Regions from separate parts of the Homo sapiens genome. Here region 2 is linked to region 1. The links come from fine-mapping of genetic effects on gene expression. A gene starts in region 1. The other region holds a variant in brackets. All regions are shown on one strand. Distances are from middle to middle.

Region 1 (12,425 bases):
ACACATTAGAGGAACAGAAAGAAAAAGCTATTGGGCGAACAAAGAAGGGAGTACTAGATCTTGTAAGTGAAGACAAGGGCCAAATCATGTAAGGCCTTACAAAGTTTGGATTTTATTTTTAATTGCAGTGGGAAGCCATTGGTGTATTTTTGAGCCAGGATCATCTTATTATAATTTTCTTTTTCATTTTTTTTTCCCTCTCCCTTCTCCCCTCCCACAGGATCTCATTATTTTGAAGTGATTGATATGATATCAGTGTGGAGAATAGGTTGTAGGGAGCAACAGTGGAAGCGGAAAGATAGCAGGGAATGGTTGCAGTATTTTAGGTGGGAGATGATGGTGACTTGGACCAGGGAGGTGGTAACAAAAATATAGAGAAGTGGATGGATTTAGGATATATATTTGAACCAACAACATTTGCTAATAAATTAGAAGGGATTTATTGCAGTGAGCCGAGATCGTGTCACTGCACTCCAGCCTGGGCAACAGAGTGAGACTCCATGTCAAAAAAAAAAAAAAAAAGGCACAGCCATGATGAGTTGCCTGTATATAATAGGCCCCAGAGAGCTCCCTTGCCCCTTCTAACATATGAGGACAGAGTCTGAAGGTACCATCTATGAACCAAAAAACCTCAGACATTGATTCTGCTGGCAACTTGGATCTTAGAATTCCCAGTCTCCAGAACTGTAAGAATTAAATTTCTGTTGCTTATATGTTATTTCATTATAGCAGCCTGAATGGACTAAGATATTTGCCAGTAACATTTGACTTCAGGTCCTCTGCTCTTGCTTTTCCTCTCTCAGGAACACTTTCTACCCAGCCTTTCACATGGCTATCTTCTCACCCTCAGCTCTTTGGCTGAAATGTCAGAGGGTCTTCCCTGACTTCTTACCTAAAGTAGCCTCTCTCCTAGTCACTCTCTCAAATAAGTGATAAGCTATTTGCACTTATCACTACTTGAAATTATATCATTTGCTGACTTGTTTACTATCTCCCCATACTAGAATATAAAATTCAAGAGCTCTAGGCTTTTGTCTTGTCTCTGTTTTATCCCTAATGCCTTAAAAGTGCCCAGCACAAAGGTGAAACGCAATAAAACATTTTCAAAATAAGAAAATTTAATGATTCGAACAAAGCAGTTTCAATGGTGGGTGAAAACAAGTCTGAAGGGGACTAATGAATGAATAGTAAAGAAAAAGAAATGGAAAATGTAAACTTCTTTTAGGAAGCATGATTGTGAGAGGAAGAGAGGTACAACAAAGGTGGAAGACAACCAAGGTTGTGGAAACGTCATTATGGGAAGAGAAAAACTTGTTCCTTAATTCTCTTTACATAAGGATCCTCTTTCAGAATTAAAAGTCCTGCATCCTCTCCTCAGAAAAATGCAAATACACCTTTACAAACAATTTCAGGGGATTTAAGACTCTATAAGGTCCTTGGACTCCAGGTGAAGAAGCCCTACAGTACAGAAACAATGAAGATTCCTAAGGCATGAGTTAATGTTAATTGATGGAGAAAGACAGCTGAGGTAATAAGAGGAAACCCAGATAAAGATGTATTGCCCCGACACAAGAAAGACAAAAGCAAGGACAGGTGAAGATTTAGACACTTGTAATCCCAATAATCCCAACACTTTGGGAGGCCAAGGCCAGAGGATCACTTGAGCCCAGGAATTTGAGACCAGCCTGGACAACATAGTGAGTTCCTGTATCTACAAAAATTAAAAAATAAATTAGCCAGGCATAGTGGCATCCACCTGTGGTCCCAGCTACTTGGGAGGCTGAGATAGGAGAATCACTTGAGCCCGGGAGGTCAAGGCTGCAATGAGTCATGATCGCACCACTGCACTCCAGCCTGAGCGACAGTGAGATCATGTCTCAAAAAAAAAAGGTAAGTGTCATGGAAATCTGAGGAAGTTTCTGTCTGGTTGAATTTTAATTTTTCAGTGAAACAGGAGCTAAGATTATATAATAAAAAGTATCATCGGTGTTGAGCAAAATATGAAGCACATAATATGTATTCAACAAATTATTGATTTTTTGATAGAATGGAAAATACTGGAGTACTTCAATGGAATTCTGAAATCTGGTTCCACAAAAGCTTACTACAGTTGAGGTGGGTTTTTCTTTTTAAAAATATTGTCTCCAAAAGTGTAGACTTATAGACATTGAAGTAGAAAGGAACTGCCTCACTAACAGAAGGATGTGGAAAACCATACAAGATTTATGAATAATTCTGAGAGAGTATTTTATATAATAAAAATAAGTGGATAAATATTTTGGGAAACAATCAGCAAACTAAATACTGCGAGCAACAATAAAGATTAATCTTAAAAAAAATGTTGAGTAAAGAAGCAAGATGTAAATGAATACTTAGTACAATTCCATTCGAAGTTCAAAAACAAGCCAAACTGTAATGTGCATGTTCACATACAATGATGTGAAACATTAAGGAAAATCAAGGAAGTGGCTATCTTAGAAGTCAGGAGAGTGGCTATCTCTGGGGAGGGAAAGAAATATGTAATCTGAAAAGGTGATAAATAGTAATACCTCTAACTGCCTCTGTGTATGGAGGACTTCAAAACCAAATCGTCCTAAACAAACTAGTCTAAGCAACTCAAAAAGAAGACAGAAAAGATCTCCCAGAGAATCTCTACACCTGATTATATTCTGGGCTACAGGCAGTGATTTTTCTTCAGAAGGTAAACAGTACGCGAGATATTGTGGAAGCTGCCATTAAATAATGCCAAAGTTTAGGATTTAAAATTAATATTTAATTAATGTACCGTCCTAGTTATTTCCCACTAATTAAGACTGAAGAGTTTGGCTCATTAATCAATTAAAATACAAACAAGAATCTGTCTTATCCTGGAAGCAGATTCGAATGCGACATCCTACTTCTATAACTAACCTGTTTTTTTCTACTTACAAACCTATTGTTATTCTACTTATGTCCTTACACGTAAACAAAGTATACTTGAAATGCTGAACACCAGTACAGAAAATTTTAAACAAGGAAATCTCCTAGGATATAAGGTCCTGGAATGGAAGAAGGAAAACGTTGGGACACTATAATCTATGCAAACTTTCCCGAAGCTGCGAAAAAAAAAAAGTGAAAAAAAACCATATTTCTGTGAGTTTTTAGGTATCAAGTCCATGATCACCTAGTTATCCAATTTAAGTCTCAAATAGTTTTTCAACAAAAGCCAGCTTTCCCTGCCTTTACTGTGTATAATTTTTACTAAAATTATCTGAGATTTTCATGCAAATGCCTATGTAATCTCAGCCTTTCACCACCCCAAGTCTAGAAAGAGGCTCAGAAATGAGCGATCGGGAGTCAGGCTGAACTCCCAAATCTGTGACTTCCAAATTCCTCGGCTCCACCAGAGCTTCCAGAGCGTTTCTAAACTGAACAGTCTCCCCAACAACCAAGCGGAGAGCTGCGGGAGGACGCGAAGCAGTGACCATAGGAACTGGGCTCAAACCTAACCTCCCAAGAAACAGGGGCAACTCGTGCTGCCGAGCTTCCGGCCGGCAGCTGTGCCCGCCGCTGCCCCTCACAGCCGCTCCCGCTGCTAGCGCCCAACTCCGCCCGCCACGGCCCCGCACCCGCCACTCCTGCCCGCTTGCAGCCGCCTTCTCAGAGACCTTCCAGTCCAGTAGCAGCACTCTCCCCACCCCGCGCACCTCCGCAGCTTCTACCTGGAGCTCCGGGTCCCTCCCCGGGCTCCTCGGCCCGCCGTCCTGCCCAGAGCTCATCCCCGCGACTGTCAGCTCTCGGCCTCAGCGGGGGATACAAGAACCGCCCACTCTCCATCCTCCGCCCCTTTCTCCTCCCTTCCCACCCCCAAATCGTCCTGGCCCCGCCCCGGCGGATCGGAGGAAGGACGGAGCCCGCGGGAAGGAGGAGGGGGCGGTTAGCGCCAGCCAGTGCCGCCGTGGCCCCGCCCTCACGCTCTGTACCGGAGTGGGGCTCGTCTTCCACCTCCCCGGCGCCCCAGCTTTGCTTCCGTCCCGCTCGCCCCCAGGCCCGGTGCGCACGCGTACCTGGCTCGACCTTCCTTCTCGCGGGGTCTACAAGCCGTGCGCGCGCTCCTACGCACGGAGCGACGCGTACGTCTACCTGCCTGCCTTACAGGGCACCTAGGAGGGACCCCTTCCTGGCCCATCCGCGCCGCGCAGGCGCACGCCCACGCAGCGCCTAGACGCCCGAGCCGAGCGTCCCGTCTCCTAGTAACCAGCCGCTAGCCCCCTTTTCCACGACTCATTTCTTAATCTCTGCCTGAGGCTGCCGCACCTGGATGGAACGCGCATGCGCAAGGCTGTCTCTCGCAGCCCCGCCTTCCCTCAGCTTGAAACACCTGCTGCTTCGCGGCGGTGGCTTTGTGCCACTTTTCCCAGGGCTTGGGCATCATTCTGGACCCATGTTCGGTGAACCGGTTACTCTCAGAGCTGCTTTCGGGCGCAGCTCCTGCTGCAGCCAGGGCCCGTTTTAAGAGAGGCTTCCAGGTCCAGCCCTCCCGCTGCAGCCTGCAGGGAGCGAGCCGGCCTGTCCCGGTGAGCGTGGGCAGCCTGGAGTCAGGGGAGCCTGGGGACCACGGCCTTGGTCAGCTCTGCACGATCAGGGCTGAATCAGGAAGTGGCAGATCTAGCAACAAAGTCCAGATTCCTGACCGATATTCCTTCTCCACATGCCAGTCCTTTTCCAAATCCCCTCACCTTAAAGTGACAAATGAGCTTTTTAGTGAAAAAGAATGAGCGCTGCATTCTTCTACCAATTTTTTGGAGCCCAGAATGGGGGGGAAAAAAGTCTTCTTAATTTTTCTTAATACCTACCATGTCCCTTCTTAAATAACTCAAGAGCTTCTGGATGATAATGGTGACTTTATCTCCTTTTCCTGCAGATGACATAGACACTAGGTTTTTACAGCAATTCTCTGATGACCTTGATATGGTAGAACGCTGTGTATTTCAAGAGTAAGCTCTCGTTTGAGGAGACTAACAATTCCTGTTTTCGCCAGGTGAGTACTCATTTTTCCCCCCACAAGATATCATTGGCAGGGATAAACAACTTTTGTGTAGAACAAATTTAGTCATAAAAATACATTTAATATAAATGCCATGTTTTTCCAATGTCTTTTCATCGTGTTATTACATGGTCTCATATTTTGTCGCATTTATTTTCAGATATCATATACTTTGTAAGTATAATTAGATACCAAAAAAAATTAAGTGTCCCTGTTATTTTAGATTAAGAGGTTAGAGGACACAAGGAGCACATATCCTCGGAAATGTAATTTTTTAAATGCACAAAATAACAAACTGAGAAGTTATGTTAGAGGGAATAATGTATAATCTCATTTCCTCTTCAGATACTAAGATTATTTTGAATACATTATCTAGCATTATTAAAAACAAATAGGAAAGAATGTTCTAAGTTTAAAACTATCAGCTGGAGTTGAAGACTTCGGGGGTGGGGAGATTATTAATATAGGAAGTAGGAAAGTACTTCCCTTATAGAAAGAATAAGAAAAGTTTAAGCACTTATGTATGCCACCTAGACGGTACTGAAGATTATTTGGAAAGAATATAAGGAAATGATCATTTTAAGGCCAAAAGAGGGTGAAAAGATTTTCCTTTTTTTTCCTATCAAGAACTGTTGACTTTCTCCCCTAACCTGAGAAAGTAAAAATTTCCTTCCCTCTGTGGAAACCCAAGGGGTAGTGAGTGTCCCACCCTGCCCCAACTAAACCTTTTTTTTTTTTTTTTTTTTTTTTTTGAGACAGAGTCTCACTCTGTCGCCCAGGCTGGAGTGCAGTGGCACGATCTCGGCTCACTGCAACCTCCGCCTCCCGGGTTCATGCCATTCTCCTGCCTCAGCCTCCCAAGTAGCTAGGACTACAGGCGCCCACTACTACGCCCAGCTTTTTTTTTGTTTGTTTTTTGTTTTTTGTATTTTTAGTAGAGACAGGGTTTCACTGTGTTAGCCAGGATGGTCTTGATCTCCTGACCTCATGATCCACCCGCCTCAGCCTCCCAAAGTGCTGGGATTACAGGTGTGAGCCACTGCGCCCAGACTTTTTTTTTTTTTCCTTTTTTTTAAGACAGAGTCTCACTCTGTTGCCCTGTACCCAGGCTGGAGTGCGTTGGCATGATCTCAGCTCACTGCACCCTCCACCTTTCAGGTTGAAGCAGTTCTCCTGCCTTAGCCCCTTGAGTAGCTGGGACCACAGGTATGTGCCACCATGCCCAGCTAATTTTTGTATGTTTTTGTAGAGATGCGGTTTCACCATGTTGCCCAGGCTGGTCTTGAACTCCTGGACTCAAGTGATCCACCCACCTCAGCATCCCAAGTGCTGGGATTATATGCATGAGCCACTGTGCCTGGCCCAGGCTAAGCCTTATATAGTACCCTGTGCTTGCTCTCTCGTGACAGACACCTTCTAAGGTCTTGGTTTTCTAGTCCCTTAATTTTTCCATCATTTCAAAAGCTTCACTACAAAAACCTCTGTTATTACTATTTTTTGTTTTGTTTTCACTGTCCTCTTCCTGATCCCCTCAAAAAAAAATCTGGGACTCCAATTCCATATGTGTTAAGCCACTTGATCTTGTTCCACAGCTCACTGATGCTGTGTTCCTTTTTTTTGTTTGTTTTTTTGAGATGGAGTCTCGCTTTGTCTCCCAGGCTGGAGTGCAGTGGCGCGATCTCCGCTCACTGGAAGCTCTGCCTCGCGGCTTCACGCCATTCTCCTGCCTCAGCCTCCCGAGCAGCTGGGACTACAGGCGCCCACCACCACGCCCGGCTAATTTTTTTGTATTTTTAGTAGAGACGGGGTTTCACTGTGTTAGCCAGGATGATCTCGATCTCCTGACCTCATGACCTGCCCGCCTCGGCCTCCCAAAGTGCTGGGATTACAGGCATGAGCCACCGCGCCCGGCCTGTGTTCCGTTTTTTAAATCAGAGAGTTTCCTCCTTATGCCGAGGCCTGAAAGTTCCAGGCAATGTCCATTCATAGGGCTCACTTTATTTCCTGTTTCTCAAGGATCACTCTCCCGAACTGCCTGTTGTCCAATATCTAAAAGCCATTGCTTCATGTGTTTTGTGTTTTGATGCTGAAAGCAGGCGGGGCACGGTGGCTCATGCCTGTAATCCAGCTACTCGGGAGGCTGAGGCAGGAGACTTGCTTGAACCCGGGAGGCAGAGGTTGCGGTAAGCCGAGATCGTGCCATCGCCCTCCAGCCTGGGGGACAAGAACAAAACTCTGTCTCAAAAAAAAAAAAAAAAAAAAAAGATGCTGAAAGCATGAGGATAAGTCTGGTCTCTGTTACTCCATCATGACTAGCAGCAGAAGTCTGCCATTCTTCACAGTTCCAGGCCCCATGTCACTAACTATCCTCAAGGGATGTGGTTTGCAATGCAAAAATTGCTTCAGGCTGGGGGAACTGTAAGTGCAAAGGTCCTGAAGCAGGAGAAGGTTTGGCATAGAATATGCTTGAGGAACAGCAATGGGGTGATAGGTCTGGGGTCGAATAAGGCAAAGAGACAGGAGAGAGTGCTTGCTAGTAGAGTTGTTTGCTACGGCTGTGCAACAATTTACCACACACTTGGTGTCTTTAAGCAACACAAATTTATTATCACACGGTTCTGGAGATTTACAAGTTCAAATTGGGTCTCACTGGGCTAAAATCAAGATGTCAGGCAGGTCTACATTCCTTCTGGAGGCTCTAGGGGAAAATCCCCTTTCTTGCCTTTCCAGCTTCTACTGGCAGCCCATGTTCCTTGGCTTGTGATCCCAGTCTATATTCAACGCCAAAAATGGCCAGTCAAGTCCTCCTCACATTGCATCATGGCTAACACATTCTACCTCCCTCTTTCACTTCTAAAGACTCTTGTGTGGCAGGTGCGGTGACTCACACCTATAATCCCAGCATTTTGGGAGGCCAAGGCAGGTGGATCACTTGAGGTCAGGAGTTCAAGACCAGCCTGTTCAACATGGCAAAACCCTGTCTCTCCCCAAAAATACAAAAATTAACTGATCGTGGTGGCAGGCACCTGTAATCCCAGCTACTTGGGAGCTGAGGCACGAGAATCACTTGAACCCAGGAGGCGGAGGCTGCAGTCACCCTAGATCACACCACTGCACTCCAACCTGGGCAACAGAGTGAGACTCTGTCCCAAAAAGAAAAAAAAAAAAGACCCTTGTGATTACATTAGTACCACCCAATTAATCCAGGAGAATTTTCCCACCCTCAGAGTCAGCTGATTAGCAACCTTAATTCCCCCTTGCCACATAACATAACATAGTCCCAGCTTCTGGGGATTAGGACAAAGACATCTTTGAAGACTATTATTCTGCCTACCACAGCTGGGGACCAGATATGTAGATAATTTTTTTCTCTGATATGGGAAGCAACTAGAGTGTGTTGAGCAGAGGACTGCTGTGATCTGGGTTTTGTTATAAAAGGTTCAAACCAGTCCAGGCATGGTGGCTTACGCCAGTAATCCCAGCACTTTGGGAAGTGGGAGGATTGCTTGAGTACAGGCATTCGAGACCAGCCTGGGCAACACAGTGACACCCTGTCTCTACAAAAAAAATGAATTTTAAAAATTAGCCAGATGTGGCCAGGTACGGTGGCTCATGCTGTAATCCAAGCACTTTAGGAGGCCAAGGAGGGCAGATCACTTGAGGTCAGGAATTCGAGACCAGCCTGGCCAACATGGCGAAACATCGTCTCTACTAAAAATACAAAAATTAGCCGGGCATGGTGGCAGGTGCCTGTAATCCCAGCTACTCGGGAGGCCTCAGCAGGAGAATCATGTGAACCCAGAAAGGCGGAGGTTGCAATTTCTTTGCAACTTGAATTTCTCTGATTCCTAGTTAATTATCTGTTTGGGATTCCTCAATCTGTGAATTATGTTTTTATATCCTTTGCCCATTTTTCTATTGGGTTTTCTTTTTCCTTGCTAATTTCTAGGTGTTCTCTTTTTATTCCAGCCATTAAATACCATCAGCTTTGGACACAGAAAATATCTCCTTCCAGTCTCTTATCTATCTTTTTGTTTATATTTTTTTCATTGAATAGAAATTCTCAATTATGAGTAATCAAACTCACTGTTTTCCTCCCTTATTGTTTAAGCTTTTTAGTCTTGTTCAAGAAATCTTTCTTCACTCCAAGGTAACAGATATTTTCTTCTATTGCATTTACAGTTCTGCCATTCACATTTAGGTCTTTAATGCATTTGCACTCCACTTTTTTTTCTTTTTGAGACGGAGTCTTGCTCTGTCGCCCAGGCTGGAGTGCAATGGTATGATCTCAGCTCACTGCAACCTCCACCCCCTGGGTTCAAGCGATTCTCCTGCCTCAGCCTCCTGAGTAGCTGGAATTACAGGCACCCGCCACCACACCTGGCTAATTTTTGTATTTTTAGTAGAGACAGAGTTTCACCATGTTGATCAGGCTGGTCTCGAACTCCTGACCTCGTGATCCGCCCACCTCAGCCTCCCAAAGGGCTAGGATTACAGGCGTGAGCCACCGCGCCCAGCCTACTTCTGTGTTTAAGATCCTGCTTATGTCCACATAGTTAGCCAATGTTCACGATACCATCATACTAAACTTAGTCTGTTCTATCTCCTTTGTCTTATAGTGCCACCTGTGATATATGTGAAGTTCCTGAAATACCTAAGTCCAAGTTACAGCTCTGTCATATTCTACTGATTATTTGTTCCTGTACCTGTACAAGGTTATTTTTATTACTTTCACTTTGTGGCATATCTTTTTGTTTTTTTTAATTTTTTTCTGATAGGGATGAGGTCTCCCTATGTTGCCCAGGCTGGTCTCAAACTGCTGGACTCAAGAGATCTTTCCACCTTGGCCTCCCAAAGTGCTGGAATTACAGGCGTGAGCCATTGTGCCCAGCCGCGTAGCCTATCTTAATATCTAGTAAAGAAAGCCACTTTGTTCTTTTTCTCCAGATTGATTTATCTCTTTATGTACCTTTATTCTTACATATATATTCCAGATTTCTTCTTGAATGGCAACCTAAATGCCAGTCCAAAGAGGCCCCCAATAGACTTGTTCACCCTTCATGTCCTCAACTCTGGGGAAGTTAAGGTAAGACTCACAGGGCCAAGTCTACCCTATTATACTTGGTTCCTCCTCAGTCCTTTTATTAGATTGAAGTTTAATGTGCAAATTGATAATTATATGTTACCATTCTTTTACGTTTGTTGATTTCAAATGCCATGTTTTAGAGTTTTGTGTTTTTTAAAACGTTTTTTCAATTTTGTATTTTGAAAAAGTTTTAAACCTACAGAAATGTAATAATAATAATATGTAGAACAACTTTTTAAGCTTTACCTCCTAGATTTAACAGTTGTTAGCATTTTGCATATTTTACTGTCTTTCTGTATCTATGTATCTATCTATCTATTGCTAAACAATTTGAGGGCAAGTTGCAGATACAATTCTTCACCCCTAACTATTTCAGTATGTATTTCCTAAGAACAAGGACATTGACTTATATAACCACAATACAATTATCATATTCATGGCATTTATCACATTGATCCAATATTATTATCTAATATTGTCCCATATCCAAATGTTTCAGTTATCTAAGTAATGATCTTTGTAGTACATTCCATCCCCTTCCCAATTCAAGAGCATTGGTTGCATCTGAAATAATGTATCTTTAGCCTCCTTTAATCTGAAACAGTTCCTCAGCCTCTCTGTGTCTTTCATAACATTGACATTTTTAGGTAGAAGCTATTTGTTTCATAGAAGATACTTCTGTTTGGGTTTATCTGATTGTTTCCTCATGTTTAGATTCAAGTTATGCATTTGACAGGAGTATTTCCTTTCTAAGAAAAAGAGAAACCAAATAGAATAAACTCAATTTTATTCATTTGAAGGCAGTATTAGATATTCCTTTGATGAGGAAGAAAAATTCATCTTCAAGTTCCAAATCTAAAAATCAAATATACCCATATTTCAGAATTTCATCAGAGATATTAAAAAATTTAGCTAAGTTGTATTTGAGTCCCAGAAAGCCAAATATATACTATTTACCTAATTGTTATATTAATATTTGAGTAAGTACTATATTTAGGCTACTACAGTAGACCCAGGACTCTGTTTTGTTATAAACACTGATATTCAGTCACAAATATGGATAAACAGGGTTTCAAGATGATTCTTTAGAAATGTTCAGTCAGTAATTACAGCTTGATGAGTATGAAATTGTAAACTATCAAAGATACCACAGTAGGTAAATATTAAAGACATAATACATTCTAAAAAGTGGGTGAGGCTGAGCGCAGTGGCTCATGCTTGTAATCCTAGCACTTTGGGAGCTGAGGTGGGTGGATCACCTGAGGTCAGGGGTTCAAGACCAGCCTGGTCAACATGGGGAAACCCCGTCTCTACTAAAAATACAAACGTTAGAGTTTCTGTTTGGGATGATTAAAAGTTCTGGAGATGGATGACCATGATGTTTGCACAAAAATGTAAATGTACTCAATGTCATTGAATTGTACACTTAAAAGTGTTTAAAATGGTAAATGTTATATATATTTTACCACAATAAATAAAATATAGACTGGAAAAAAAATAAATAAAAATAAAAATAAAAATACAAACATTAGCTGGGCCTGGTGGCGGGCACCTGTAATCCCAGCTACTCAGGAGGCTGAGGCAGGAAAATCACTTTAACCTGCCGGGTGGAGGTCCAGTGAGCCGAGATCGCACCACTTCACTCCAGCCTGGGTGAAAGGGTGAAACTCCATCTCAAAAAAAAAAAAAAAATGGGTGAGGGATTTCGATCGAAGCTGTGGAATCTGCTCCAGATCTCAGGTTGCTACTATAGCATCTTGGGTAGATCACTCTTCTCCAGTAAGCCCTGGGCTTTCTCAAACCTTTTCTGTACAGGAAGCCTGTCCCTTCTGCCATCCTGGTCAACTCTGCCTACCAAATTCCTGCCCATCTTTGAAAGCGAAACCCTAACCTAGGCTCCCCTCCTTTGGGAAACTTCCCAAGGCCTCCCTCCATGCTACATGATCATCTTTTTTTTTTTTTTTTTTAAGACGGAGTCTCGCTCTGTCGCCCAGGCTGGAGTGCAGTGGCGCGATCTCGGCTCACTGCAACCTCAGCCTCCCGGGTTCACACCATTCTTCTGCCTCAGCCTCCCGAGTAGCTGGGACTACAGGTGCCCGCCACCACGCCCGGCTAATTCTTGGTATTTTTAATACAGATGGGGTTTCACCATATTAGCCAGGATGGTCTCGATCTCCTGACCTCGTGATCCACCCACCTCAGCCTCCCAAAGTGCTGGGATTACAGGTGTGAGCCACTGCGCTCGGCCGATCATCTCTTTTTACAGACTAGACATCCTTAATCACAAGTATCTTTTTTTTTTTTTTTTTTTTT
Region 2 (12,425 bases), 910 kb before region 1:
CCCACTTAGTCTCAGTGTATAATTATTTTAATACATTGCTGGATTCCGTTTGCTAGTATTTTGTTGAGGATTTTGGTATCAAAGTTCATGAAAGCTATTGATCTATAGTTCTTTTAATTTTTCTTTTTTAACACTGACTTCATCCAGCTTTGGTATCAAGCTAATAGTGTCCTCACCAAGTGGGTTGGAAAATTGTCCCTCCTCTTCTATTCCTGGGAGAAATTCATGTAATTCTTCTTTGAATGTTTGGTAGAGTTATCATGGAGCCATTTCGGCCTAGGGATTTCTTTTCCAGATTTTTCATGATGAATGCAATTTCTGTAATGGTTTTAAGGATATTGTCCATTTCAGCTTGGTCGAGTTTTGGCACTTTGTGGTTTTTCAGTAATTGGTCTATTGTTTCTAATTTATCAGATTTATGAGGGCAAAGTTGTTTATTATATCCCTTTGTTAGCTTTTTAATGGCTGCAAGATCTTTAGCAATGAACTCTTGATATTAGTGCTTTGATCTGTCTTCTCTCTTTTTGCCTTTTTTCTATCTAGCTAGAGGCTTTCTTGCTTTTCTTTCTATTTGTTCATTTGTTTCCAGAGAATGTATAATTAATTGTTGAAGCACTTTTATGGGTAGCCTCTTTAAAATCCTTGTCAGATAATTCCAGCTCCTGATTCTTCTTGGTGTTGGCATCATGCATTTGCTTTTTCTGATTGAAGGTGTGATTGTTTTTCTAGTTACTGATATGATGGGTGATTTTTGATAGTATCTTGGACATTTTGTCTATTATGTTAGGAACTCTGCATCTCATTTAAGTATTTTATTTTATGAAGTAGTCACCCTGTTTAAATTTAGCATGTGGGCCTTGACCTACTTTTGTGGGCTGTGGTTCTGATGGCGATTTAATTTTCACAGGCTCTGTGGTATTGTTAATATTTTGGTGCTTGTTTTTATGGTGTTTCTGGGGCTCCTACTGGTCCCTGCTGGTGCTACCTGAGGTGGCAGCAGGGATCCCCTCAGACCAGGATGTTAGATGTCTCTGAGGGGAGAGTTGCAGCAGCTTCCCCCAGTGTTGTCTCTGAGGTGTCCCCACATTGCTGGCAGGGAGGAGGGCCTTGAACCCACAGGGACCAAGAGGCGTCCCGGAAAGGGCCGCTAACTGGAGATTGGCCCTCTTGCTCCTGCTATCTCTGTACAAGGGAGCAGCATCGTACATGGGAACAAACAGCCTTCCCACACTGGCCACTTGTGTGGCTGCATCCCTTTTTCCAGTCCTGCCTGCCTGTTCCAGTGAACCTGAGTTTTGCCAGAGTTGCTACTTGTCTTAAACATTTTAATGGCCAATTGTCACTGCCACCATTTCACTTAGATTTGGGTTGCTCGGTATTGGGAGACAATCATGTGCTGAGTTTCTATTTTGTTTCCATTGGTGATGTAGAGGAGTGGTGAAATGCCATGACTGATCCTACAGAGTCCGGGGAGGGGCTAAATGTTTGATTCCACTGCTAGATAAATGTTTCATTCCGTATTTGTGGCCTTTGGGAATGGTATAGTTTTTATGTTTGGAGACTTGGGGAGCTAAATTTCATTTTCATTTGGCTCACGTAAATCTGATTGTTTTGCCTGGTAATGTTGGTCAAGGTGGGCTGCCAGTGTGGACACTGGCAGGAGCTCAGCTCTCTGATTTGGATTGTTTATCTCTTTTTCTCACAGACATAGCTTCTAAGGAAATTTAGCTTTCTTAGTTCCTGGGTACAGAGACAATCAAGGCAGGGCTTACCCTTTTGTTGCCTAGAAAAACAATGATTACCGTATAGCACACTCCTTCTCTATGCATGGAGACCACTGGTGTTAATTTTCTGTGTGAAAGCTACCCATTTGCAGATTACTAGCTAATCTTCACTCTAACTATCTAATTTCTTGTAGGAGAGGGTAAGTCCTCTCAGTGAAAACACAGACACATTTCATTCACGAATGCTGACATAAAGCCTTGGAACTAGGTACTTCTAAAGCCTCCAAATTATGAAGTACAGACTACATTACAATTAGTGTGGTTTATGTTATCAAATATAAAAAGTAATCAAGATGACTTGGCACAGGCTCATTGTCCTCTAAAGCACACAGATTCAAGGTCAATATTTGCTAAGTTGTCATTTGCCTGTAGAAGGGACACATCACAGGGTAGAAAATAACATAAGCAAAGATCTGGACAGCAATTGTGGTGGGCAGAATTTCTAGAATGGCTTACCAAAGATGTCCTGCCCTGAACCCTGCAATCTTTGAATATGATGACACGTCACTCTCATGACCAGGTTATGCTGACCTAGACAGAGTTATCTAGGTGAGTCCAGTGTAACTGTGGGAACTGTGAAAAGCAGGGGCTATTTCCAGCTGGTGGCAGAAGAGAAAGTCAGACAGATTTGAACCACAAGAGGAATTCAATGTGCTATTACTGTCTTGAAGATGGAAGAGTCGTGTGAGAAGTAATACAGATGCCTTAAGCAGCTGAGAGAGGCCGCTGGGCTACAGTCAGCAAGGAAATGGGGCCTCAGTCCTACAATTGCAAGGAGCTGGGTTCTGCCAGCAGCCTGAATGAGTGTGGAAGCTGACTTCTCTCCAGGAGGGGTCCAGCTGAAATTCAGATAAAGGGAGCAGGGCATCCTGGCAGCATTCAGTTTGTGGCAGCACCATCCTCAGAGGGTTGGGAAACAAAGGTTGCATTCTTACTTTAAGGAGCTGATAAAATAGTTATATCTAATGAAGTATCTCCTTCCATCCCCAATTCCTTTAACTCTTCCCTCTGTGATACCAACAGAATCAACCAAAACCAGCCTGCTCAGAAGCCAGATGTCCTCCCTCAGGAGCTCAGCTTGCAGTGAAAGGAAGGATGGCCTCTCCAATGCCAGCAGCCGGAGGACTGCTCTAAGTGACAAAGGCAAGCCAGAAAGCATCTCTGTGGCCAACCAGCCTCCCTTTCCACAGTGTATCTGTTCCAGAAAGAGCTGCGTGTAGATATGTTGGGGAAATCATATTTTAAATGGGCCCAGATTGCTTCCTATTCAAAGGAATCCCTTGTAAGTCAGGTCTGCCTGCTTTATGACCTGGATTTTCTGAGAGCTGGCCTTGTGCTTATGGTGCCTGGGTGTTTAATACACACGTGGCTCACATAACTATGGTCATGCTGCTGCCCCTCCATGGTTTGATTTTGAAACTGTCATATTTCATAGTTGATTTTTTTTCTTCCCTTTCTTCAATGGATGATGCTATCAGATGAGCCCCTCTCTGGTCCAAATTGTCAGCCTTTTGGGGACTGCATATGAGGAAAATGTGATTTTCCCACTCAATTTTTATTACTATTGATAAAATTATTAATCTTAAAGTAATAAGTTTTGAAACGTTTGATGCCTGTAACATTTTTCTTTTATTTCAAATGGTTGATACATTTAAAATCCCAGTTAAACACACACATATACACACAATCCCCTAGGGAGTAGGAAGTGGCTGAGTAGCAAATGTGCCCCTGTGGCTACACAGTCATAGTTTAATTTAGAACTCTGTTTTCTTCATTGCTGATCTGTCTGATATCTTTTCCTCACTTTTTTTTTTTTTTTGAGGTAGAGTCTCACTTTGTTACCTAGGCTGGAGTGCAGTGGCGTGATCTCGGCTCACTGCAACCTCTGCCTCCACGGTTCAAGTAATTCTCCTGCCTCAGCCTCCCGAGTAGCTGGGATTACAGGCAGCCGCCAACAGGCCAAGCTAATTTTTGTATTTTTAGTAGAGACAGGGTTCCACCATATTGGTCAGGCTAGTCTCAAACTCCTGACCTCAAGTGAGCCACCCGCCTTGGCCTCCCAAAGTGCTGGGATTTTGGCCGGGCACAGTGGCTCCCTTTCAATTAACCTGCCATATTTCCTAAGTTGTCTACATGCACATTCCTTAAAGGGCTTATCAAATGATGATTGGGATATGATTTCTTAGCTAGTTAACTAGCTCACACCCAAACACGCCTCCTTCTGAATGCTGCTCATTCAACAAATATCCCTTTTCATTTATAAATACACATTTATATAAGGATATATGTAAAACCCCAAATATTAATTTGAAAATTTGAACTTACAACTAAACAGGACCTAACAGGTTTTTTGGTTTTCTACAGAAAGCTGAAGAACCACTAAACAATCTATCAGAAATTAAAATGTTGATCAAGGCTCTCATATAATTTGGGGGAGTCCAAAAGGTCAATATTGAACAATCATTGGTTAATGGTATTTTTATTGCACACTTTTTAGAGGTGTGTTTTCTGAATGAAAGAATGAATATGTCTCATTGTCTCAAAACAGTGGTAGTGCCGTATTTACCCATGCATTGGTCTGTAGTGTAAATTGCAAAGGAATCTTGCCTGAGAGCCCGCTCTGACAAATCAGGATATGTTCTCTGAAATGTGGTCCATTTATTAGCTCTCAGTCACAGCTGGACTGAGACAAGCGTGATCCCTTTGCATTTTATGTAAAACCCATATGTGAGGAAAATATACAACTGCCACTTCCCCTTCCACAGAAATGAGCATCTTGCTGGCTGAGGAGTGGCTGGATGACAAATCGTCAGAAAAGGTGACGCGAGAAGGAAGCCAGGTTTATGACCACGAGTGAGTTCTTTAATTTGACAAAGACAGTTCTGTTATGCTTCTGTTGGTTAACCATCAAGTTGTAAATTTTAAAACACCACCTCCTTGTGTTCTTAGTTCTTCAGATGTGTCTTCAGAAAACTGGCTGAAGACCTATGGCTTGGTCGCCAAGAAACTCACCCTCATGGATGCCTTGTCAGTGGCAGCAGTCCCGCACAGCTCCACCTATGTTCCCGTCCTGGACAAGCATGTCGTGTCTAAGGTCTTTGATGAGGTAAACTGATTGTCTATACGTCCCTACTTGAGGCCATTTTCATTTTCTGCTCAAATAAAAAGTAGTCCAATTTCTTGTGTGGTTGTAACAGAAATGTATTTTAGCCACTGGGGGAAAAAGTATTTGTAAAGGCAGTAAAAGGGAGAGAGAGAGGCTTTTAAGAATTTGGGCGCGGTGGCGCATGCCTGTAACCCCAGCACTTGGGAAGGCTGTGGTGGGTGGATCCCTTGAATCCAGGAGTTTGAGACCAGCCTGGGCAACATCGTGAAACCCTGTTTCTACAAAAAATACAAAAATTAGCCAGGCATGGTGGCATGCACCTGTAGCCCCAGCTACTTGAGCCACTGAGGTGGGAGAATCGCTTGAGCCTGAGACATCGAGGCTGCAGTGAGCGGTGATTGCGTCACCGCATTCCAGCCTGGGTGACAAAGCGAGATCTTGTCTCAAAAACAACGAAAATAAGAATTCTCTTTTTAAGCTGAGAGAAACTGATCTTGGTTGGGTTGGCACTTCGTGGTTCGTTGCTAACGGATAGAAGTGTGGGGCTGCAGAAATGATTGAAAACTCTAGGTCAGAGTCATGAGTGAACATCAAATATCCCTTTATGAAAGGAAAGGGAGGACTTGCGAGAGATTATGTCCTTCTTTTGCTTACCTTCTCTTCCTAAATTGAGTGGCATCTTTTGTAGCTAAAGGAAAAAGTTAAGAGAGCAAACAAGCAAGCCACATGTTAGCAAAAGAACCACCAGATTGTCCTAGGCCGGTCCCGAGAGGAGAAAAACAGCTTCCAATGGGAGGGCGTGGTAGGGTTAAATGTGGAGGAAGGCCAAGGAAGTACTGAAAACTTAACACTGAATTTGGCAACAAGGAGGTGCTCATCTTTACAAGAATAATTCCAGTGGAACGGCATTACTGCAGTGGGATGAAGAACACCAAAAACATGAGAACATGAAGACGGAACCTCAGTGCTTCCAGGCAAATACAACAGCAACTAACGATTTAAATAGAAACATTTCAGTCTTTGCAGTCACTGAATGGAAACAATATCCTTAAAAGACCTGTCTCATGCTGAAATCTTTGCAGAGGAAATGATACAATGCTTGGGGATGCTTGGGGTTTGCTTTATTGTAATTGGGGTGGTGGAGTAGTGGGCGGGGGAGAGTAGATGAAATAGATAGACCACACGTTGATCATTGTAGCATTTGGATAAGACTTAGTGAGAAGGGTCGTTTTACTCTTCTTTCTGCTTTTTTGTGTATTTGAAATTTTCCATAAAAAGAAGTTGAAAAGATCAAAGGCAGGAGAAAGTTTTTTTAAAAATGAAAAGACCTTTTCTAACTGGCCTTGAAATAGCTGAGATTTGATGTATTGGGAGAAGCAGATGAATTGGTGAATTTTATTCTATTAGCACATTTTAAAAATTATCACCCATGGAGGCTCACCTGCCTGCTGGTTTGGGATGACCAGTGACTCTCCCTCCGGAGGCTGTGTGTGTGTTCTCCTCTAGGCTGGTTCCTGGCTACTTTGCCTCAAGGTGAGTGCTCCTGTCCCTGGCTGTTTCCTTGTGATTGGCAGATTTGATTTATACCTAATTAGTCAGATGTCAACTCACCACTTGAACTTGACTTCTTCTAGAAGCAACAGGGAGAAACTGAACCCTAATTTATTTCTTGTAGGAGGTTTGGGGACAGCTCCTTCATATTCTCTGCAGTTATATTACTATTCTTGAGTTTTATTTGGGACGAAATATATTTAGTGAACTCTACTTAGAAATAGAATTTTCTTGGGCTTATTATGCCTCCTTCTAAATGTCCCAACAACTTGAGGTAGAGTGAAAAGTAAATTTCTTGAAAAAAATATGGTAGGATAGGGAAGCAGAAGCATAAAATCCAAGGAAGAAACAATAAAGGAAAGATTTATAGGCTGAGTAGGTAAAAATGTTATTTTGCTTAAAAACATGTAAATAAAATGAAGACAAATCTCAGAAAAATACCTGCAACATACATGACAGACAAAAAGGGCCATAGGAGTGATATCTTACGTGTGTGTATCAGTATAAAGCACCGTGTTTGTATGAATCAGTGTTCAGTATGCAAACACACATGCACATACATCCATACCATAAGGGAATGAGAAAATGACAAATACTGGAGT[G/A]GAAATTTTAGGGAAAAAAAGGAAAAAAGTCAAACTCATATACAAAAATATTTAACTTTACTGGTAACCAAATATATGCCTTAAAAAATGCAAATTGATAATCAATTAGACACCACCTCCCCCATCAAATTGGTAAGGTTAAAAATCACCGATAAACAGTAATGGCAATGACAGGGTGGGATGGACACTTATATCCTGCTAGTGAGAGTATAAATTGGTGCATCCTTAGTGTAAAATGTTCAGAAGCCTTAAGAACTTATATTTACCCCAGCGAATTCATATATTACTAGGAATCTATGTAAGGAAATAATTAGAGATACTGAAGTATATGTGCAGAGAATAATTACTACAGCCTTTAGCCAACAATGGAAAACAACACAAATTCATATAATGGCATGTCATACATTCATCAGATATCACATTTCTAAAGAATAAGTTTCACACGATGAAAAGTCCTCGTGCTAAATGAAATATCGTGCTAAATGAAATATCATGCTAAATGAAAAAAATCAGAATATATAGTGTGTTAGAAACTTGGTTGTTCATGTGACTGATTTAGGCATGGTGGTACTTTCCCCTTCCCTCCCTTTTTTCTTTTACCAAAATGTTAACAGTTTAGCTGGGTGGTGAGATTGTTGGGAGATGTTTTTTTTTTTTAAATTTATGTAGCTTTTAATTTTTATTGTAGTACTTTTAACTCTGAACATTATTAATTATACACTGAGAAAAATGTTAAGAAAAACAGACCTGGCCAGGTGCGGTGGCTCACACCTATAATTCCAGCACTTCAGGAGGCCGAGGCAGCGGATCATTAGGTCAGGAGATCGAGACCATCCTGGCCAACATGGTGAAACTCCGTCTGTACTAAAAATACAAAAAAATTAGCCAGGTGTGGTGGCGTGTGCCTGTAGTCGCAGCTACTCGGGAGGCTGAGGCAGGAGAATTGCTTGAATTCGGGAGGCAGAGGTTGCAGTGAGCTGAGATCACGCTACTGCACCCCAGCCTGGCAACAGAGCGAGACTTCATCTAAAAAAAAAAAAAGAAAGAAAGTGAAACAGACCTGAAAGCAAATGACAAAATGATGTAAATGTAATGGGAACTTAATTTTTAATTAACTGCTTTATTTTTATCTGATAAGTAATATATGAATAATTCTCAGTATATGAGATTTAAGCCATACTTAAGTCTTCAGAGGAGGCTTCTCTCACCACTACGCCTATCCATGAAGGAAACACGTTGAATAGTTTGGTGAATTTCCTTCCAATCCTTTTTCTACATATGCATATGTAAGTATGTGCACACATAACGTATTTATACAGAGACACATAAGAACTTTAATAAACATGAATAAGACAATACCATATACATTTACTATTTTAAAAACTATTTTAAACATTTTGTCTTAGAGCCCTTTCCATACAGGTAGATGGTCTCATGCCTATAGTTGCAAGGTTCTTCCCCATTATTAATGGATATTTACATTGTGTTCTTCCTTCCCCTCTTACAAACATTCCTGTAACAGGTATCTTTGCACGTAGATTTTTGGGCACATGTATAAGTCTGGCTTTGGAAGAAATTCCCTCAAGTCAGATGGCTGGACCCAAAGGGTATGTGCATTTTAAATTTTGATAATTCAAATCATCCCCCAAATTCACTGTACATTTTCACTAGCATGTATCCCCACAGACAGAGTAAAGTAGTACTCTCTTCCTAAGAAGAACTCTGTGTAATACTTGATAATCATTGGTCCTTGGTGTGTAGAAATGCTTTGAAAACCCTGAAAGTAGGATGCAGACATAAGATCTTTATTCAGCCTATTCTTTCCTCATTGGTTCATATGCTGAAGAAGCAAACTTAATATTCAGTCCAACAGTTAGAAATTTTTTTCTCTGAGATGTATGTGATATATCCATACTCTGTGAATAATAATATGCCTACTCTGAGGTTGTTATGGAATTAAAAGAAGTAATGCATACAGTGTAAAGTACTTAGCAGGCACTTAAAATGTTGACTTTTATTATAAAAATATTCAACAAATTTATGCCTATTGTATATGCCTGTGTTGGGCTCTAGAATACAGTGCCAAACAGGAAAGCCAACATTCCTACCCAAGCACAACCGACAGTCTCAGGAGGAAGTAGCAATGAAAATGAGAGAAGTTCTAGTTAAATGTGACGAGTGGGAAGTGCTGAGTGAAGATGCAGGAGATGTCCCTCACCTGGCTTCAGTGGCCACAGAAGGCTTGCCTTAGCTAGTGGCATCGGAGTTCAGACCCAGGGGAAGAGAAGGAGTTATGAAGGTGGAGAGATGGGAAGAGAGCCCCAGGCAGTGGGGGAGCTTGGGGAATCCTAAGGAACAGAGAATGTTTGTCATTCCAGAGAAGTTTAGTGTGAGTGGAGAAGGTGATAAAGCTGGTGAAGGAAGGGCCTTGATTGAATTAAGGATTTTGAACTTCATCCTGAGGGGAATGGAGGGGTTGTTAGCAGAGGAGAAATTAATTTGGGGTTTGAGCTGGCACACAGAGAATAGTTGGAGAGGCGGGCAGTCAGGAGGCAGTTGGGGAGATGGGGGCAGTCAGGAGGCAGGGCTGGGTGGCTGGAACCAGTAGGCTGTGTGGCTGAAACACTGCGGATGTACCCAAAGCTCTTTATAAAGTCAAGTCAACGATGTGGGGCTGAGAGAGAGAAAAATGCCAAGAGTGATTCTCCAGACTCCAGCCTGGAATATCAAGCAGGGGAAAAATAAAGAATGAGTAGTGAGGGTCTTGTTCTTCAGGGGGGCATCCTAGTCGTCTGCCTCTAGAACACAAAGCCCAGGGGAGGGGATGAACAGTTCTCAAGCACATCCCATGGGCACTTGTGCTTGGTGCCTTCTGTGGCATTGTGAGTTCTCAAGACAGCCTGCACGTAGGTAGGCACTGCACAGCACACTTGCCCTCCCTTATTCATAGTAAGAATCACTCTGATGACAGGCATATACTGCAGTGATCTCCAGTCTCACATCCAAAGCACTTTTGTATCTTTGATTCCCTAATATTTTCTCTGACTGGAAGACACCCTCAGCTATAAATGGAAAGAATAACAAAATAATAATCTCAAATATCTCCCACCTCATGGGATGTATACCTTTTTGATGTTTGGACTTTTATGAAAAAGCAGACAAAAAGTAGAATGGAGTTGAAAAGGAAACACACTAGAGTCTTACTTCACTGAGAATCTTAATTGCGTCCTCCTCCTGTGTTCTGTGCACGGCCACATCTGTCTGCATAGAGTTGTAAAGCAGTGTCTGGCTTTGTCCCCAGCTCTTTGTTTCATTCATCACTTATGTATGGGCTCTTTCTTCTTCTGGAACACAATGCTGTTTTGGTTTTCAGTGTTTCCCGGACCAGCCTCAAATCGGTCACCTTGGAAATGAGGTATTGAGCAAAGAGGTTGCCCTAGCAACTCTTCATTACAAGATGCAAAATGGACTCGATAATTTTATCTTAGCTCTTTCAAAAAGATTAACTCTTCCCCAAGTCATATACACAATAAAACTGATTTAGCTATGTAATGAACCTAGAATTTAAAGCTCTTTATTTGCTGGTTGATTTGAAAAGCATTGAAATAATTTGGGAAAATTGGTCTGCACCACTGGAGAGTCTACATCATCACCCATCATCATTGTCGTTATCATAATGTCTTTTACAGCATCCCATCAAGGCTTCCTGTGTTGTCCGTCCTTCTCCGGGTTCTGCACATAGCTTTGTGGCCAGATAGCCTGGATTGGTGCTCCAGCTCTGTCATTTACTCCTGAAGGACCATGGCAAGCTCCCTAATCTAGTATGCAGTGCACCCTCATCATATACTAGGTTCTGAGTAAAGCATTTGCTATCATCAAATATCTCATCTAAAACTTAGAGTGACCTGTGAGGTGGCTATTCAGCTCACCATTTAGCTGACAAGGAATATTTGGTGCAGAGAGGCTAGGGGTGCTGTCAAGTCATGACATTTTGTTGCTTTTAAATATAATAGCAATGAACACAAAACTGTACACTGATAGAAAAGCTTTTTAATTAAAAATTTAAAACAGTTATCACAAAACCTACATATGTATATATTCAATGTATAGAAAGATTAGAAAATGTAGATAAGTGAAAAAGAAAGAAGCAATAGTTATCATCCACCTCATCATCTCATGGTTATCTGGCCAGATCTTCTTACTTTCTGTATATAGATATCCAGACCCTTTGTTCTTTGTTTTTGTTTTTATCATAATTAAATGAAACTGAACATCCTGTTTTGTACCTGCATTTTTCAACCACCTATCCATGAACATTGTTCCATGCTGGCATATACTTATCTACTATACCAGTTTAAATGCTCAGCCTTTTAATTGAAATATATTAATTTAAACTTAAATTGAGAATAGAGTTTTATTTTCTACAAGTTTAGATTGAAAAACTGTGAGATGTAATTTTTTTTTTCTTGAGATGGAGTCTTGCTCTGTTGCCCAGGCTGGAGTGCAATGGTGTGATCTCTGTTCACTGCAACCTCTGTCTCCCGGGTTCAAGCAATTCTCCTGCCTCAGCCTCCCGAGTAGCTGTGATTACAGGCACGCACCACCATGCCTGACTAATTTTTTTGTATTTTTAGTAGAGATGGGGTTTCACCATATTGGCCAAGCTGGTCTTGAACTCTTGACCTTGTGATCCACCTGCCTCGCTCTTCCAAAGTGCTGGGATTACAGGCAAGAGCCACCATGTAATTTACACTTAGTAACATACTCTCATGGGTTTATGAATGATCTTACTGACATGCGATTTGGCCAGCTGTTTTGTGGCCCTGCTTTCATTTTGTTCTATGGAGCCTGCAGGTGTTTCAGTTTGAAAGGCAGACATTTAAGTTTTGGCACTTGGCCATTTGCACAACTGTAATATCTATAAAGCTGTTGCACCTACATTCAAAGATTCCCTGTGTGGGATTTACACAGCTATTACATTTCCATTACACACATCCAATCAGAACCTCTCCTTGGCCAATCTGGTAGGAAGCTCTGGGATATTTACTGGAAGAACTGATTTAGTTGAAAAACAGTGAAGTTGGAGAATTCAGTCAGAGTTGAACAATAGATAATCACCAGTTTCACACTAGTTTCTCAATTTCAAAATGTTTTGTGATTGCTTTTAAACACAGCTAGAATGTTGTCAGGTGGAATTCGACCTGTTCTACTTTAACAATCAATAGCTGTGGGCACAGTTCTGTATTCTGTGTTCTTAATTTAGCATATGTTATGAACATTTTTCCTTACAATAGCCATTTTGGGATGAATTTTAGTGATTACACTAACATTCAGTAATATAAATTACTACAGTTTAATTATTCCTCCCAATTGGGGGCAGTT

What was found. PIP is the estimated chance that this variant, and not a neighbour inherited with it, causes the effect.
Region 2: its variant is fine-mapped to the expression of C2orf15 in whole blood (INTERVAL, PIP above 0.99).

The regions. Positions count from the first base shown.
Region 1 is chr2:99,137,382-99,149,806 of GRCh38, forward strand. C2orf15 (chromosome 2 open reading frame 15) reads left to right here and starts at 4,326. Exons shown (of 4, transcript NM_144706.4): 1 at 4,326-4,556; 2 at 4,904-5,020; 3 at 10,021-10,112. The region is part of intron 1 of TSGA10 (testis specific 10); the gene reads right to left. RefSeq lists silencers at 3,586-3,655, 3,726-4,035 and an enhancer at 4,257-5,063.
Region 2 is chr2:98,231,841-98,244,265 of GRCh38, forward strand. It overlaps VWA3B (von Willebrand factor A domain containing 3B), which reads left to right. Exons shown (of 28, transcript NM_144992.5): 17 at 2,808-2,927; 18 at 4,550-4,637; 19 at 4,734-4,890. Among named protein-coding and RNA genes, the nearest start is that of CNGA3, 110 kb to the right of the region's middle. The variant G/A (reference allele first, on the strand shown) is at 7,044.